Regions from separate parts of the Homo sapiens genome. Here region 1 is linked to region 2. Evidence: fine-mapped expression QTL. A gene starts in region 2. The other region holds a variant in brackets. All regions are shown on one strand. Distances are between the middles of the regions. Region 1 overlaps PPHLN1 (periphilin 1). Region 2 holds the start of PPHLN1 (periphilin 1).

The links. PIP is the estimated chance that this variant, and not a neighbour inherited with it, causes the effect.
Region 1: its variant is fine-mapped to the expression of PPHLN1 in whole blood (INTERVAL, PIP above 0.99).

What each region holds. Positions count from the first base shown.
Region 1 is chr12:42,351,047-42,359,046 of GRCh38, reverse strand. It overlaps PPHLN1 (periphilin 1), which reads right to left. Exons shown (of 10, transcript NM_201439.2): 3 at 6,998-7,162; 4 at 3,825-3,886. Among named protein-coding and RNA genes, the nearest start is that of PPHLN1, 29 kb to the right of the region's middle. The variant TA/A (reference allele first, on the strand shown) is at 3,297.
Region 2 is chr12:42,322,079-42,332,136 of GRCh38, reverse strand. PPHLN1 (periphilin 1) reads right to left here and starts at 5,970. Exons shown (of 10, transcript NM_201439.2): 1 at 5,908-5,970. It overlaps ZCRB1 (zinc finger CCHC-type and RNA binding motif containing 1), which reads left to right and starts at 6,043. Exons shown (of 8, transcript NM_033114.4): 1 at 6,043-6,213; 2 at 8,033-8,118; 3 at 9,691-9,719. The coding sequence starts at 8,035. It overlaps MIR7851 (microRNA 7851), which reads left to right and starts at 8,278; the gene lies at 8,278-8,437. RefSeq lists an enhancer at 6,298-6,347.

The DNA.
Region 1 (8,000 bases), 28 kb before region 2:
AGGAAATTTCAAACTACTTATATTAGTAAATAAGAAAGAAAAATAATTATCTAAATTAAAATGTTAAGATTTTTATTAAAAAAAATTAAACACACATGTTAAACCATTTTTAGCAGGCAAACTGACATCTATTAATATTTAAAATACATATATATACCCACTGACCCAGAAATTCTGCTTCTAGTAACCTATCTCGTAAAAACTAAAGTACTATTTCATGAAAATATTATGTACTAGAATTTACTGCAGCACTGTTTTGTACTGTAAACAGAGTGACCAGCTAAATTATTTGACATATCCTCACCATGGACTATTACTTGACCATTAAAAAGATTCAATTTGGCCGGGAACAATGGCTCATGCCTATAATCCCAGCACTCTGGGAGACCAAGGCAGGAGGATCGCTTGAGCCCAGGAGTTCAAGACCATCCTAGGCAATAAAGTGAGACCTCATCTCTACAAAATAGTTAAAAAATAAAATAAAATAAAATAGATGGGTGTGGTGGCACACACCTGTGGTCCCAGCTACTCAGCAGGCTGAGGCAGGAGGAATGCTTAAGCCTGACAGATCAAGGCTACAGGGAGCCATGATCACACCATTGCATTCAAGCCTGGGTGACAGAACTTTGTCTCAAAACAAACAACAAAAAAAGACTCAATTAAACAATCAAAAACCCTAAATGTTTATGAATATAGAGAAAAATATAGAAGAACTTATACCAAGATGTTATCATGGCTGTGGGGATTAGAGATTTATATATATGTTTTTATTTCATTTATGTAAAATGTTATATACATACACAAAATGTTATAAAAAAGAGACAGGAAGAGAAAATTAAAATTAACATAAAAACTGTTATTTTACAAACTGAAAAATCACAATGGGAAAGATATAGAATCAACCTAAATGTCCGTCAATGGATGACTGGATAAAGAAAATGTAGTACATATATACAATGGCATACGATTCAGCCATAAAAAAAGAATGAAATCATGTCTTCTGCAGCAACATGCATGGAACTGCAGGCCATTATCTTAAGTGAAACAACTCAGAAACATAAAGTCAGAGACTGAATGTTCTCACTTCTCACTAATAAGTGGAAGCTAAATAATGTGTACATATGGACATAGTGGAATGAGAGACAGAGATTTGGAAGGGTGGGAGGTGAGTGAGGGATGAGAAATTACTTAATGGGTACAATATACATTATTCAAGTGGTGGATACACTAAAAACCCAGACTTCACCACTACACAATATATTCATGTAACAAAACTACACTCGTATCCATCAAATTTATACAAATAAAAAATAATATAAATAAATAAAAACAATTAAGCTAAAATAAATTTCTTGGGAGGTATTTCTTTGGAGGAGAAAGATAAGCCACTAGCTGATCTAGTTTTTAAAAGTGTTTTACAATTCTGCCTTTCACATAGGTCTTAATTATGTCAGATATTATTTGGATATATCAGCTTCCAATGTCATGTTTTTGAAATGTTTGTCCCAGCACACTATTTATTGAAAAGTTCATTCTTTCTCCATTGGATTTGTAATGCCACTGCTACTGTACCCCAAACTCCAGATATATCTAGGTTTATTTGCAGATTCTGTTTCACTGGTCTATTTGACATCAACAGTACAACACTGTTTACATCACTACAGCTTTATAATTATGCACATATGGTATCTTGAGTCTTCACATCTTTTTCAAGGCATTTTTGCCATTTAGCCCTTTACTCTTTCATATTAGTCTTAAAATTAACTTGTCAACTTCCGTGCAAAATAAAAAATAAAAAAAATTTTGATCTTTGACTGGAACCAAATTGAATTACCACCTTAATTTGAGGAGAACTGACACTTATATGATACTGAGTCTTCCTCGCTAAGGATGTCATGATTCTCCTTTTACTCTGATTCACTTTTATTTCCTTTAGAAATGATTTGTAATTTCCTTGTATAGGCCTCATACTCTTTTGGTGAGTTTATTCCTATCACTCATTACAGTTTTCATGCTATAGTATTTTGAAAACAAATTTTCTAATTTATGCTGATAGTTGATCTTATTACATTGGACCTTGCTAATTTCATAATAGTTCTTACAGTCTATAGACTTTCCTAGATTTTCTGCATAATTATATTATCTTTAAGTAGTTGCGTTTTTCATTCTAATTCCTACAACTTATTTATTTTTCGCTTTACTGTAGGCATTGTTACCATGTTGAGTGGAAGCAGTGACTAGATGTCATTGTTTTGTTCTGATTTTAAAGCAAATGTTTCTAATTTTACCATTCAGTACAGCAAATGCCCAATTACCCGGTCAAGGAAATTCTCTTTCCATTCCCAGCTGGCTATTTTTATAACTACTTGGTGATTAATTTTATCAAAGCATTTTTTTCGGCATCTATTCTATTGCTTCTTTTGGAAGAAACAGTCTGCCATGGGTTCTGAATGTCCCTGCACATAATTGCCATGTATGCCAAATTCCAAGACCTAACTATCCACTGACACTGAACAGTTTCTGTAGCTGGTTACAGAGACAATTAAATAGGTTAAGGTGACCACAATGTGACTACTATGGCAGGTCACTCCCAGGGAAAGGAGGACTAGCTTGCTTTCTGCTTTCTACAAAAGGTACCAAGCTCTTGACCCTGGGTTCCACAGCCACAGTGTATCCCACTGTGTGCACAGTCACCATCTGTGCCTATCACATCGCCCTGTGGGATTTGGGGACAGGGAACCTACACTACAATGCTGATCCTCCTGCTGATTGCTGTGCTGTGAATAAAAATCTGTCTTGCTCTGATCCACTGAATCTTGTCTACTTTTGGCATCTTTGGAGTTGTGACAGTTGATGCCTTGCCACTCTCTATGAGACTGGGGTTATTTTCCCTGATAGTTCATAAGAAATCTCTACAAGGCTCCTTTTACAACTTTCGATACCACCACTGTGATGTCATTTAAAAACAAAAACTATCAATCAATTTAAATGTGTCCATCGTTTCTTTCCCACAACTATTCTATTAGATGCCCTCTGTAAGTAATCAAAGCCAACGATTGAGGCCCTTGCAAAATGTGTTTCCCAAAAGGACTTCACTAATTAAAGAAACTGAGATGCCTTATAATAGACTTTGTAAGAACCCAGAATACTTCTGAAAAAAAGCCTTACTTTCTAATTAAGCAAACCTATCAAATCAAATACTAATTAAGCAAACCTCATAATCCATACCACACATTAATAATTTAATAATTAGATTGCAAAACTAAATCACAATAGTTCTTTTTTTTTTTTTTTTT[TA/A]GACGGAGTCTCACTCTGTTGCCCAGGCTGGAGTGCAGCTGCACGATCTCAGCTCACTGCAACCTCCACCTCCCAGGTTCAAGCAATCCTCCTGCCTCAACCTCCCTAGTTGCTGGGATTACAGGCACCTGCCACCATGCCCAGCTAATTTTTTTTTCTTTTTTTTTGTATTTTTAGTAAAGGCAGGGTTCCACCATGTTGGCCAGGCTGGTATCAAACTCCTAACCTCAAGTGATTTGCCCGCCTTGGCCTCCCAAAGCACGGAGATTAACAGTGTGAGCCACCGCACCAGGCCCAAATATTTTTAAATATTTTTTTATGAGTTACAAAATGCCAAGAGATGTGGAACACTAGTTATCAGTGCTATTATACTACATAGTCACAAAAAGAATATAATGCTTGTTGCTTTCAAAATTTAAAATCCCAGTAAAATATTTCATCTATGTGCCTTGAGTCTATATTTCCAAAGCAGACATCACAGTGAGTCAAGTATCAAAGTACTTATGCTATTATTTTTATCCTTTTACCTGTATTCAGGTTGCCTGCTTGCAGAATGATCGTCTCTTGTCCATCTATAACCAGATTCATCCTGTAACATAAAAAAGCTACTTAGCTATTTGTTTACATTATTTTGGACAAGTGGGACATATCTAACAATACTACCAGAAACTAGACCGAATTTCCCTAAACTTCAAAGGCATAAAAAGGGAAAAACATTCAGCAAGTCATCCATTTCAACAACTGAAAGAGTAGACTGACTGAGAACCTGTGGTACCATTTATCTCTATTAAAATGCTTAAATTATTTCTTTGGTAGACTCAAACAAGCTAATTGCCAAAGATACATATATCAATATCACAACAGTAAAGGGCTATTTGAGAACAAAGTCTAAATTTAATAAAGCACACATTTCTCAACCTCACATTTTTCCTTCTGTCAAGTTCTCTCACCAATTTTCAGTTTCAAGCCCAATGAAAAACTTGCTACTTTCCCATTTTTCCTGCTCAAGTTTTATTTTCTCACCTTATTTTCAATTAAAAACCAAACTGGAAACAATATAAGAAACTGTCACTTATTGATAATCTATATCAGAATAAGATTTAAATTTATTTAAGTTTAAATAAATTTAAAATTAATCAAACAAAGCACATTTTGTTCTCTAAGACATATTTGCAAAGGTACATAAAAAAGAACCATATAGCAATCCACACCAAATTACTTTAAAATTACACACAGAATTGGCCAGGCGCAGTGGCTCACGCCTGTAATTCCAGCACTTTAGGATGCCAAGGAGGGTGTATCACTTGAGTTCAGGATTTCGAGACCAGCCTGGCCAACATGGTGAAACCCCATCTCTACAAAAATTAGCCGGGCACGGTGGCGTGCACCTATAGTCCCAGTTACTCGGGAGGCTGAGGCAGGAGAATTACTTGAACCCAAGAGCCGGAGGTTGTACTGAGCCAAGTTCTTGCCACTGCACTCCAGCCTGGGCAACAGAATGAGACTCTGTCTCAAAAAATAAATAAATAAAATTATACATAGAATAATACAATATGCAAATTACGTATCAGGAAAACGGATTCGTCTAAAATAAATATCCTCATCTTCCTCTTTAGCATCACACACTCTATTCTTATATAAATAAAATATAATCATTTTCCATCTCAATATTAAATATAAACACAATTCAAAACTTAACAGTGCTAATAAAATATTAAATCAAGTAATCTGCATTACATAACTGAACTCTATATAAGAATTAGTGTCATGAGACTCTTAAGGATCACAAGTATGCTTGTTGTTTGTTTGAAGAGAATTTAAAGAAAAAATGTTATACACACAAAAGTATAAAGACAAACACAATTGGTAACAATATTAGAAAAAACTGCCATTGAAGCTTTATTATGCTACAAGTTTTTAGAAAAAAAATCATTTTCATGAGGTTTCAAATACAAACTGGTCCAATGAATAGAAAACTCACATAGGATTTTCATAAAAGTGGTAACAACTGAGACGGTGCACTAAAATCTCAAACTTTCACCACTATTCAACTCATCCATGTAACCAAAAGCTACTTGAACCCCAAAAGCTACTGAAATAAAATAAAAATGTAATAAATATGAGGACCACAAAAAGCAGCATGACATTCAAAAGCTGAATAAAATAAAAATCAATTCTGTGAAAACTAAGAAAGCTATAAAACCCCAAACTTTAGAAACAAACACGAGAAAACACTGAATAGTCTCATTACAACTTTGGAATTGTTAGGGGTCACTATGATGCAGTAGTAAGAGAAACCAGACTCCCATACATACCGATCCTAAGTAAATCACCTTACCTCCATTTCTTCAAGCGTAAAGTATGAAAACTAATTCCAACAGCCAATGTGAGGTCAAATTATTTTATAAACAGGGTTTGAATATGTACTGTTAATTGTCATATTATACAGTAGGAAAGGGGGAAAAAGAGAAAAGGTGGGAAAACAACCTAGCTAAGGAATACTGAAAACATGCAAGGTAGGACAGAGGAATTCCATCACAGAATAGTATTAAGTTCAACTACAGATTACTGCATCATTAAATACATACTTCTACATTATTAAGAATGCTCAAGAGAAGCGAGTTGTAATAGTAATAATAGCAGCTAACTTTTTTTTTTTTTGAGACAAAGTCTCGCTCTATCGCCCAGGCTGGAGTGCAGTGGCGCGATCTCGGCTCACTGCAACCTCCACCTCCCAGGTTTAAGCAATTCTCCTGCCTCAGCCTCCCAAGTAGCTGGGATTACAGGCACCCACCACCACACCTGGCTGATTTTTGCATTTTTAGTAGAGACAGGGTTTCACCATGTTGGCCAGACTGGTCTCGACCTCCTGACTTCAGGTGATCCACCTACCTAAGCCTCCCAAAGTGCTGGGATTACAGGTGTGAGCCGCTATGCCCAGCCAGCTAACATTTTTAAATTGCTTCCTATGACGATGTTTTGAGTGCTTTCTAATCTCAGTTAATAAATAGACTTTAGGCTGGGAGTGGTGGCTCACACCTATAATCCTAACACTTTGGGAGGCCAAGGTGGGCCTCCCACTTGATCATCAAGTGACCTCCCACTTGATGTCAGGAGTTCAAGACCAGCCTGGCCAACATGGTGAAACCCTGTCTCTACTGAAAACACAAAAATTAGCCAGGCACGGTGGCACGTGCCTGTAATCCCAGCTACTTGGGAGGGTGAGGCAGGAGAATCACTTGAACCCAGGAGGCACAGGTTGCAGTGAGCCGAGATCGCGCCACTGCACCCCAACCTGGGGGACAGAGTAAGACTCTGTCTCAAAAAAAAAAAAAAATTAAGTGGGTTATCTAGTAAGAAATGGTAACCACCTGCTCATCACTTATTAAGTACTAAGACAACAGATTACCTTTAAATGGTTTTGCAAATCCCTGCCAATTTAGGGGAATAAAAAAAGCAGGCTGGTTGGAATTAATTTCATTTAGATAGTGCCACCCAGAGTGCTTACCTACTTTGTCCAGTACCCCAAGATTCTTGACTATTAGGTCCCATCTGACAGCTCCAGCAGGCAATTCACATGAGAGCATCAAGCAGAAAGTGTTTATTCAACTGCTTTCACGGCCGTCACATAAATTTTTAAATTACATTAATTTTAAACTTATAAGAAATAACAATTAGTACATGGGGGAAATTTACATACTCCTCTGTGAGGTGGACCACTTCTTCGATCATGAGAAAAACTGCGGCCCTCGTCATAGTCTCGGTAATCAACATGACTGTAATATCTATTGTAGCTTCCTTCACCAGGTCTGTCTAGCAGTGGTGGTTTCTTTGGCACAATATTAACTAGTCTATTGTAGCCATCCTAAAACAGACAAAAAGAAATATATACAAATGACTAATTTCTCTATTTGGTTTTGGAAAGGTTTTTAAAAAGCACAGGAGTTCTTACCCTTAATCGAATGAGCTAAATGTATAAACAAAAGCGTTAATGAAATAACATAAATATAACTAATACTAAGGTCTTCACATGGATTAAAGGAAATCAAGTTGTTCAACGAAGAAAGCCAGGTGTTCAAAATGACATGCAGCAATGCGAAAACCAATCATAAGTAAAAGAAAAAATACAATATTATCATTTTAGTAAAAAATAAACTTAAGACAGAATGTTACAGTAGCTCTATCCCTAATTGCCTAACAATTTTAGAAATAAAATTATGTAAGACAGCTCTCATATTTGTTCTACTATACTATTTAGAAGAAATATAAGCTATTTACCCACAAGCAACAGCTAATGATGATATTGAGCCAGAATGATCAAAAGGAAACATTTTGCTATTTTTCCAGCAGTAATGGAGGGAGGAGATTGGCTTTACAGGTCTAGAAGCAAAATAAAAGCTGATATAAAATTTGAACTAATTTTCAAAGTACTGGAATACCTTGTTAATGTTTTAAAAAATGAGTAGGTTTTTTGTGAGACTTGGGGAATTGGACGCAGGGAGAACATATGTCTTAGGTTAGTAGCTGCTATAAAATAACAAAAACGATTATCCACAGAAAGAAGTAGAGAGCTACAGAACATATATCTGTACATAATCTGGTCTTGGGCATTCATGACACATCAATCAATATCAAATGAGATATATGTTAAAAAAAAACTGTAAAGCCTGATATAACATAAGATCAATATGAATTAACTAATC
Region 2 (10,058 bases):
GACCTCCTGGGCTCAAGTGATCCTCCCGACTCAACCTCCCTAGTAGCTGGAACCACAGGCATACCACCACACCTGGCTAATTTTATTTTTTATCAAGTCATGGTCTTACTATGTTGCCCCCATGCTAGAACCTTGTAATTTTTAAAGGATTTAAAAATAGCTGATAAGTACAGCAAGCTTCCTGATTAGCGGCATATGTTGTTTATGATATTATCCAGGCTTAGGAAATTGACCAATCAGTTACATTTATACAAAGGTGTTCAGACTCCCAGTGAGTGATCATGTTACCTGCCACATCATCACTACATCTCCTCATATCAGTGCAGTTTCGATGGTACTCCAGAAAAGTTATCTAAGCCAACAAGATATTCAAACTGAAGAATCAACAGAACAATAGAAGGACCCTCTACATCACAATTAGGCAAAGAACAGAATTAGAACTCAGTGTGGAGAATACAAGCTTCATTCAGAAGTGCGCTAATAACTGGTTATGGATTATAAAAATCTCTTTCTCTTATGCCATATTCAATGAAGACGGTATGTTTAATATACCATCATGGGATATTTAATTCCAGAAAGAAAAGAAGCCTTTCTTAGAGCACTCCACTGGGCTATCCAACCACTGTTATGTTAACTTCAACTGAGGGCTGAGAGATTATGGAGGACTTGCACTCTAAGCAAAAGTGTCATGGAAATTGAGAAAACAAAGTCATAGGCAATATCCTTCTGTCAAACCATTAACACTCTGAATCCAAAGTCAAGATAATGGATCTGTTTTTTCATTTTAACCAAACTGGTTATAGTAGCAACTTAGGCTATAGTAACTCTGCATTCCAATCTAGTCAGTTTCCATTATTAAATACACTCAGGATAAATAGCTTCCCCTCCCCACCAAAACTCATTCCTTCGCTTTTTATATTCTTTCAACAACTATTGATAGCCAACTAGAGTTACTGAACAGCAAAGTCACATTGACCTCAAACTTCAGATGAACATAGGTCTTTGCACTGGCAATTCCCTGCACAGAATATTCTTCTCCAGATGTGGGGAAAAGAAAGAGAGATCGGACTGTTACTGTGTCTATGTAGAAAAGGAAGACATAAGAAACTCCATTTTGATCTGTACCATGGCTGGGCACGGTGGCTCACGCCTGTAATCCCAGCACTTTGGGAGGCCGAGGCGCGCGGATCACAAGGTCAGGAGATTGAGACCATCCTGGCTGACATGGTGAAACCCCGTCTCTACCAAAAATACAAAAAATTAGCCAGGTGTGGTGGCACGTGCCTGTAGTACCAGCTACTCAGGAGGCTGAGGCAAGAGAATCGCTTGAACCCGAGAGGCGAAGGTTGCAGCGAGCCAAGATTGCACCACTGCACTCCAGCCTGGGTGACAGAGCGAGACTCCATCTCAAAAACAAAAACAAACAAACAAAAAAAGATCTGTACCCTGAACAATTGTTTTGCCTTGAGATGCTGTTAATCTGTAACTTTAGCCCCAACCCTGTGCTCACAGAAACATGTGTTGTATGGTATCAAGGTTTAAGGGATCTAGGGCTGTGCAGGATGTGCCTTGTTAACAACATGTTTACAGGCAGTTTGCTTGGTAAAAGTCATCACCATTCTCCATTCTCGATTAACCAGGGGCACAATGCCCTGCGGAAAGCTGCAGGGACCTCTACCCAGGAAAGCCGGGTATTGTCCAAGGTTTCTCCCCAATGAGACAGCCTGAGATATGGCCTCGTGGGACGAGAAAGACCTGACCGTCCCCCAGCCCGACACCCATGAAGGGTCTGTGCTGAGGAGGATCAGTAAAAGAGGAAGGCCTCTTGCGGTTGAGGTAAGAGGAAGGCCTCTGCCTCCTGCATGCCCCTGGAAACGGAATGTCTCGGTATAAAACCCGATTGTACATTTGTTCTATTCTGAGATAGGAGAAAACCACCCTGTGGCTGGAGGCGAGATATGCTGGTGGCAATGCTGCTCTGTTATTCTTTACTACACTGAGATGCTTGGGTGGAGAGAAGCATAAATCTGGCCTATGTGCACATCCAGGCATAGTACCTTCCCTTGAACTTATTTGTGACACAGATTCCTTTGCTCACGTTTTCTTGCTGACCTTCTCCCCACTATCACCCTGTTCTCCTGCCGCATTCCCCTTGCTGAGACAGTGCAAATAGTAAACAATAAATACTGAGGGAACTCACAGACTGGTGCCGGTGCAGGTCCTCCATATGCTAAGTGTTGGTCTCCTGGGCCCACTGTTCTTTCTCTATACTTTGTCTCTGTGTCTTATTTCTTTTCTCAGTCTCTCGTCCCACCTGACGAGAAACACCCACAGGTGTGGAGGGGCAGGCCACCCTTCATCCAGGTATCTGTGGAATTAACTTTCCTGCCCTTCAATGTCACCTTCTTAATGTCACTTATAACAGATCCCCCAATCGTGCTATCTTTAATTAGCACTAATAATCTAAGATACCACATAATGTACTTTTAATACACATTAGTCCCTCACTAGTAATATTTCTACTAGTAGTATTTCTAGTAGTGAGGGTTTAATCTGTATTAAAAGTACACTATATAGTATCTTAGATTATTAATGCTAATAATAATAAAAAGCAGGAATGTCTATTTGTTCACTGATGAATATTAAGCTCCTAGAACAATTTGCACACTGTGCTCAGTATTCAGAGTGAATTAATATTCTAATGTTTCTATTAGAAAATATTTGAAATTCCAGGCCGGGCGCGGTGGCTCACGCTTGTAATCCCAGCACTTTGGGAGGCCGAGGGGGGCGGATCACGAAGTCAGGAGATCGAGACCATACTGGCTAACACGGTGAAACCCCATCTCTACTAAAAATACAAAAACAAAATTAGCCGGGGGCGGTGGTGGGCGCCTGTAGTCCCAGCTACTCGGAAGGCTGAGGCAGGAGAATGGCATGAACCCGGGAGGGGGAGCTTGCAGTGAGCCAAGATCGCGCCACTGCACTCCAGCCTGGGTGACAGAGTGAGACTCCGTCACACACACACACAAAAAAAAAAAAAAATTGAAATTCCAGACAACTAAACATAAATTTTAGAACATAATTAGTTAAGGTCATTGAAAAAAAAAAATTAACTGATGCTGGGGCTGGGTGCGGTGGCTCATGCCCGTAATCCCACCATTTTGGGAGGCTGAGCCTGGCGGATCATTTGAGGTTGAGAGTTCAAGATCAGTCTGGCCAACATAGTAATACCCCGTCTCCACTTAAAAAATATACAAAAATTAACCAGGCATGGTGGGACATGCCTGTAATTCCAGCTACTCAGGAAGTTGAGGCAGGAGAATCCCTTGAACCTGGGAGATGGAGGTTGCAGTGAGCCATGATCGTGCCACTGCACTCCAGCCTGGGCAACAGAGCAAGACACCGTCTCAAAAAATAAAAAAATAAAAAGTACTGCATTCTCTACTAGTTTCACAAGTCACTTGACTTTCCAACGCTTTAAGGATACTTCTTTTATAAGCCCGAATGTACTGCACTAAACTTAGTAGGAGATCCCTGATTGTCCATTATAATTGATCAATTAACTGAAATTACACAAGTAAACAAAAATGCCAGATGTCTGCCTACATATAATATTTATAAATCTGAATTTTATTTCATATATGGATGGAAGTTAAGGCCTTAACCGGTCAGCCTCCTTCCAGTGTTTTACCCTCCATTTTACCCTAAAAAAGGATAATCAACTGTTAACGCATATTCATAATGTGAAGTTTCCAGGATCAAGAATCCAAGAGGTTTTTTATTAACCATAATAAATCCAAACTTCTATCTTCCATATGCCTCCTTCTATTATATCTAACCTTCTATTCTCTCCAAAAGCATATAATTATGCCTGTTTCCTTACTGTGCCACAAACAGACTAACACATACTACCACGGAGCTGTTTATTTTCCAAACGGGATATCTTTTTCCATTCTCTCATTCAACATCCAACGGTCCATCAAGGCCCAACTCAAAACCTATTATTCTCCACAAAGCCCATTATATAAACCCTACAAGACTTAAAACAGATTCCAAACTAGTGACTGATAGGCCATATGAGACTTGTGTTTGACCCACTTTTTTTTTTTTAATAAAATTCTATTCCACTGACAACATTTAAAAACTGGGAGAGGATGCTTTTTAAAAAATGGTATTTCCAACTTTTTTTGAAAAAATTAGATGTTCTGGCAAAACTGGGATCATATTCTCACATAGCCACAATCAGCTGTAGCTGAGTGGCAGGTGACCCCTTCTAAGGGTGAAGTATTCATTAACGTTAACTGCCTGATCTCTGCAGCATACCTTCAGCACCTGCAATCATTCAAGAAATAACTGACTGTCTTATGTGCCAAGAACTGTATTAGCTACTGGAGTTACAAAGATAAACGAGACAAACACAGTCCCTCACCGACAGTCTCGCTTAGTAGGGATGGCAAAGAAGCAATTAAGATACATGTGATAAATGCCGTGAGGGAAGTGCAGGACAGCTAAGAGTACATAGCAAAAATACCTAACTCTATGGAAGTTAGGGTATACCCCTCAAGTAAAGTGACAGCTAAACTCAGATCTTTAATAGAAGTTATCCAGAAAAAGATAGGAGGAAACAGGGAGCTCAAATGTCCCAGAGAGAGAAAAGAGCCTTTGTGAAGATACTGAGGGAAGAAAGTATTCTGAGGAATTGAAATCCGTTCAACATGGCTACAGCCATGCCCAACCTTTAAATGCAGGGTCAGAGAAAGGGCTCAACTGAAATGGCTGGCAGGAAAATCTACGTGTTATCAATAGTTAAGGTTAGGAGATGAAGGAGAATTTCACTAAAGAAGTTGAATATGTAAAATAGTTTAAGCAGGAAATAGAGGTTTCAGAAAGCACAGATGGGGTGTTGAGGGGTTAAATGGGGAAGAAACGAAGAAGCAGTGATAGCCTAAGTCGAAAGAAAGCACAAAGCAGCATGGAAATGAGACTATAGCACAGAAGACCACAGAAGCTTACATCTTGGGCGGTAACCAAGGATAACAGAGATGTAAAGCATGGTAAGTTTGGCTGGCCACAAGTATGCCTAGAGAATTAGTGCCAGCGGTCTCCTGTCGGCCACGGAGGCATTCAGGCCTCTCAAAATTCAGCTGCGCCCTGGATGGATTGTACTTCCGTCTCTATAGAAGACATCGGCTTCACTCTGGATTGATTGTGCAGGCTCCAGGAGAGGCTGTGGGTTCCAGGCTGCTGGAACGCAGGCTCCCAGGGAGTGGTTAGAGGCCTGGTCTGTATGTGCTGGTAGGCAGAAGTATAAATTACCTTGCATTACGTTCTGATTTTTCTGTAGGAATGGTGGGCATGTTATGGCCTCTTAGAGAAAAAGCAGTGCGTAGCCATTATAGATTTACAGGAAGAGAAAAGGTGCCAAGAAGATCAACACTTGTCCATACCCATACTAAAGATGAGTCATTCTGTGAATCCAACTCTCCCCAAGTTGACCTCGTCTCCCCAACTAGACTGAGATCTTCACCAGAAAACAAAACAAAACAAAACATAAAAGGTCTGTTTATTTTGTAGTTCCCAAAGTGCCTAATAGCTGGGTACCGTGAACACCTTCAGTAAAATTACCGACTTCCTGACTCCTCTCGGGTCACTGAAGTTACCTAGCTCAGTCGTCTTCTTGCATATTAAGGCGCTACAGAGAGGCGAACCCCTATCTTAGACTCAATACTTCCCTTTATTCCAAACTCCACTGCGTCTCTCCACCCTCAACCGCATGGGCAGAATTGTCACACAATTCAAAGGCAGGAGAATCCAGGACCCGACACAGAAAACTCCCGCCCACTCCCCCCCGTTTAGCAGCCCGCACACGCTCTGCATCCATCTCTGGGAAAGGTAAAAAGCGCTCACCGACTCTGGCCCTCCGGGAGACCCCGTAAATGCAGCCGTCCGCTCGCCGCCGTTATCCCAGGTAGGTACTTCCGGCGCGCGCAATGACGTTAGCGAAGCGCTCGCCTCTGGGCCCGCCTTCGGGGCCCGGATCTCAAACAGTCGGGAAGAAGCACCGTGGCTGCTATTATCTGCTCTCCGCGCCTGACCCCTCCCAGGACTCGTGATGCCAAGGCCGCTGCGAGCGGCTACGAAGAGTCGGGGTTGAGCCCCAGCTGAGCCGAGGGCTCGCACTCTTCTGGTCTCCCAGGCCCAACCCACCTGAAGGTAAACGCCTCCTCAGCTGCGGCCTTCTCTCCTGCGGGGCCCCCTCCCCAGACTCGGCTGCCAAAACGCTCTGCCCCTCTCTCCCGCCACCCTTTTTATTCCAGGACCTTAACCTCTGCCTGCCTTCGCGGCTCTCAGCAGAACGTGTAACGCATAGTTTCAAATGAGAAACTTAAAAAGCGACGTATCTATGTTGAGTTCCTGAAGTTTTCTAAATAATTCCCCCATAACACCAAACATGAGGCAGTTTTCTCATTCCTTCACGAATTGGCATGCCATAGAGTCAGTATTTTTCCATTTGTGATGGTTGATCTTCCCATCTCAAATACACACCGCACGCTCTTTTTAAATCAGAAATTTGAATTTGGTTGAGCCTGATATTTTCACGGTAATTTGCTGACTTTGTAAGATAAGATGTGAAAATTACTGATTACATTTGTAAACTTTATATACATATACACACATACCTACAGGTCTGTCTCTTCGAGGCACCAAGCCTATTTATATAATGTATCATTTCATAATTTGGCAATAAGCAAAATTAGCGTTTCGAAAGAAGTTTATATTGTCGATACATAAAGCTTAAATTTACTCCTTAACATCATACTAAAAGGGGAAAAGAAAATTTTCCTCTTAACACACCACTCCAGAGAAAAAAAATATTAAGACAAGCAAAAAAGGTACCCAGCCATAGTACAGGCATGCACAGCATAACAACTTTTTGATTAACAACAAACCACATATACCACAGTGGTCTCCTAAGAGTGTAATACATTGTACCATATTTTTAGTGTACGTTTTCTGTGTTTAGCTATGTAAATATTTACCATTGTGTTTCAACTGTCTACATTATTCACTACATTAACATGCTGTACAGGTTGTAGCCTAGGAGCAATAGGCTAGACCATCTAGGTTTGTCTCAGTACACCCTGTGATGTCTGCACTGTGAAATCACGTAACACTCAGAACATACCTCCTTCATTAAGCATAGCATGACTGTGTATTAGCAAAAATCAGTGGCTAAGGTTCTGTCTGAGTCCCCATGCTCTTTCTGACCTGGGTGAGCAAGGTGCAGGTAATGTACATATACAGTACATATTCAATAGAGCATTTTTTTTGCTCATGGTCTGAGTGGAAGTTAGGAGTAGCCTCAGGGTTTTTCCTTCATCTGTTCAAAACCCGTCTCCCTACCCATACAATCTGGCACTGAAAGTGTTGGTATAAAGAATACTTGAAAGAAGAAGAACCAAAAAAGAATTTTTTTTAAGTGGTGACTGGGAAAAAGGAATTCCTTAATTCAGCCTGCTGGAGTCATTGTTCCTAACTTCCTAAAATGTAAGGAAGGTGTACACATCTGGCATAATTAAATCGGTGATTGTTAATACTTTATTGGTTTTTGTTTTTTGTTTTTTTCCAAATAATACCCAGACTGGTCTGATGTATTGGTTTTATTTGGAATTAATAATACTTGGTTTAGGCCAGGTGTGGTGATTCATGCCTGTAATCCCAGCACTTTGGGAGGCTGAGGCAGGTGGATCATTTGAGGTCAGGAGTTCAAGACCAGCCTGACCAACATGGTGAAACACTGTCTCTACTAAAAATACAAAATTAGCCAGGCATGGTAGTGGATGCCTATAATCCCAGCTACTCGGGAGGCTGAGGCAGGATAATTGCTTGAACCTGGGAAGCAGAGGTTGCAGTGAGCCGAGATCACGCCATTGCACCCCAGCCTGGGCAACAAGAGGGAAACTCCGTCTCAAACAACAAAAAAAGAATCCTGGTTTAGACTGATTGCTGATAAGTTTGTTTTCACTTTTAGAAATGAGTGGTGGATTGGCTCCAAGTAAGAGCACAGTGTATGTATCCAACTTGCCTTTTTCCCTGACAAACAATGACTTGTACCGGGTAAGTAAATCTTATCGAGTGACTGCTATTTGAGATACAGATAACCTTAAGCAAATAGTTCTCCCTGGCAAATTCTTTTTTCCTTTTTTTTTTTTTCTTTTTTTGAGACAGTCTAATTCTGTCACTGAGGCACGAGGCTGTAGTGCAGTGGCACTATCATGGCTCACTGCAGCCTCCCCGCCCCCTCAGGTGATCCTCCCACCTCATCCTCCCAAGTAGCTGGGAATACAGGTGTGTGCCACCATGCCTCTACAAGCTACCTGGGAGACTGAGGTTGGAAGATTGCTTGAGCCTAGGAGGTCGAGGCGACAGTGAGCCAAGGTCACACCACTGCACTCCAGCCTGGGTGACAGAATGAGACCCTGTCTCAAAAAAAAAAAAGAAAAAAAAATAGAAGCTATATTTATTGAACATTTAAGTCAAATTATGTGTTAGATACTAAGGAGATGCTAAGATGTTAGGTGCTAAGGAGAAAAAATAACGCAGGAAAGGTGGGCTATTGAACGTTAAGTTGGGAATGGAAGTGAAATTTTACATAGGGCGGTCAGAAATGCCATTATTGAGAAGGTGACTTTTGAATAAAGACCTGAAACGAGTAAGAGGCACCTGTGCAAATTCTAGAGGACAAACATTTCAGAAAAAGAGGGGTAATCTTAGGTAAGCCCACTCGAGGTGCCTTATACGACCTATTTACATCATGGTAAGGACTCTGGCTTTCACTCTGCATGAAACAAGAAGCCATTAGTAAGTATTATATAGAAGACTGTACTGGCCTTCAGAACCCAGTGTTGCTAACACTGCTATCCAGTTATTTTACATTCCAGCATTATACAGCTTAATCATAGAACGAAAAAATTCGTTATTATTGGTTGCATATACTAACACATTCTAAAAGACTTTTTATATAATAGGAACTCTTAGTATATGGGTAATGAGCTGGAACTGTAGAAATAAATGAGATTGCATAGGATAAAGTAAAAGTAACAGAAGAGAGAGCCAAGTATAAAGTTCCACCAACATGTTAATGGTGGGCAGAGGAAGAAGACTGATAGAAATGGATTTTTCATTATAAAAGCTTATTTTATGAGGTTTTGTTTTGTTTTTTAAATAAAGCAGTCTAAGGATTTGCCTTCTCAAACAGGGATTGCTTAATAGGAATAACAAGGTAGTGGTGAGGGTAGAATTGGAAAAGTGCTGCTCCATAAGATTGACATTTGAAGCACAGGTGTATCTGGCACTATGATGGAGTTGATAGTTGCCATGGGTATACCTCAGGAACACAGCAGCTGTCCAGTATGTATGCCTTAGATCTACCACATGTGTAGAGTGAGTTTTTTTCTCTGTATTTACTCCATTGTCAAATTTAGAAACAGACAGATACATGTGACTCCAACAACAGTAAGTATATTATTCTAGTAACCAAAAAAAACTTTTTCCTAGGGCCTGTCTTATAGACTGAAGGCTGAAATTATTCATAAACTGTAACAAAGAATTTGGTCAATGTCTGCAACCTAAAAATTTGATGTTTTATGATTTTAAAATAAATTGTAAATATTTGGTCTTTTGTTTCAGATATTTTCCAAGTATGGCAAAGTTGTAAAGTAAGTATTCACATTAAATTTTGTAACTTCATTTAAAAGTTTATCTGAATTTGCTTCTACATTTTTTTAATGACAGATTTTTAAAAATAAAACATGCTTGATATAATAAAGAAAATACTATTAACATTTTTATGACAATTTAGTTGGTTTTCCATGTACATAAACATGTAGACAATTTTTCTTAAAGACTATTACATACATACAATTTTCTTTTCTTTTTTAATTTGACATACCATAAATGTCTTTCCATGTGCTATAAAGATACATCCTCATAGCTAATGGTAAACAAATATTTTGGTTACTAGGAAGTGTGTTATCAAGTATACTATAAGTAACCTA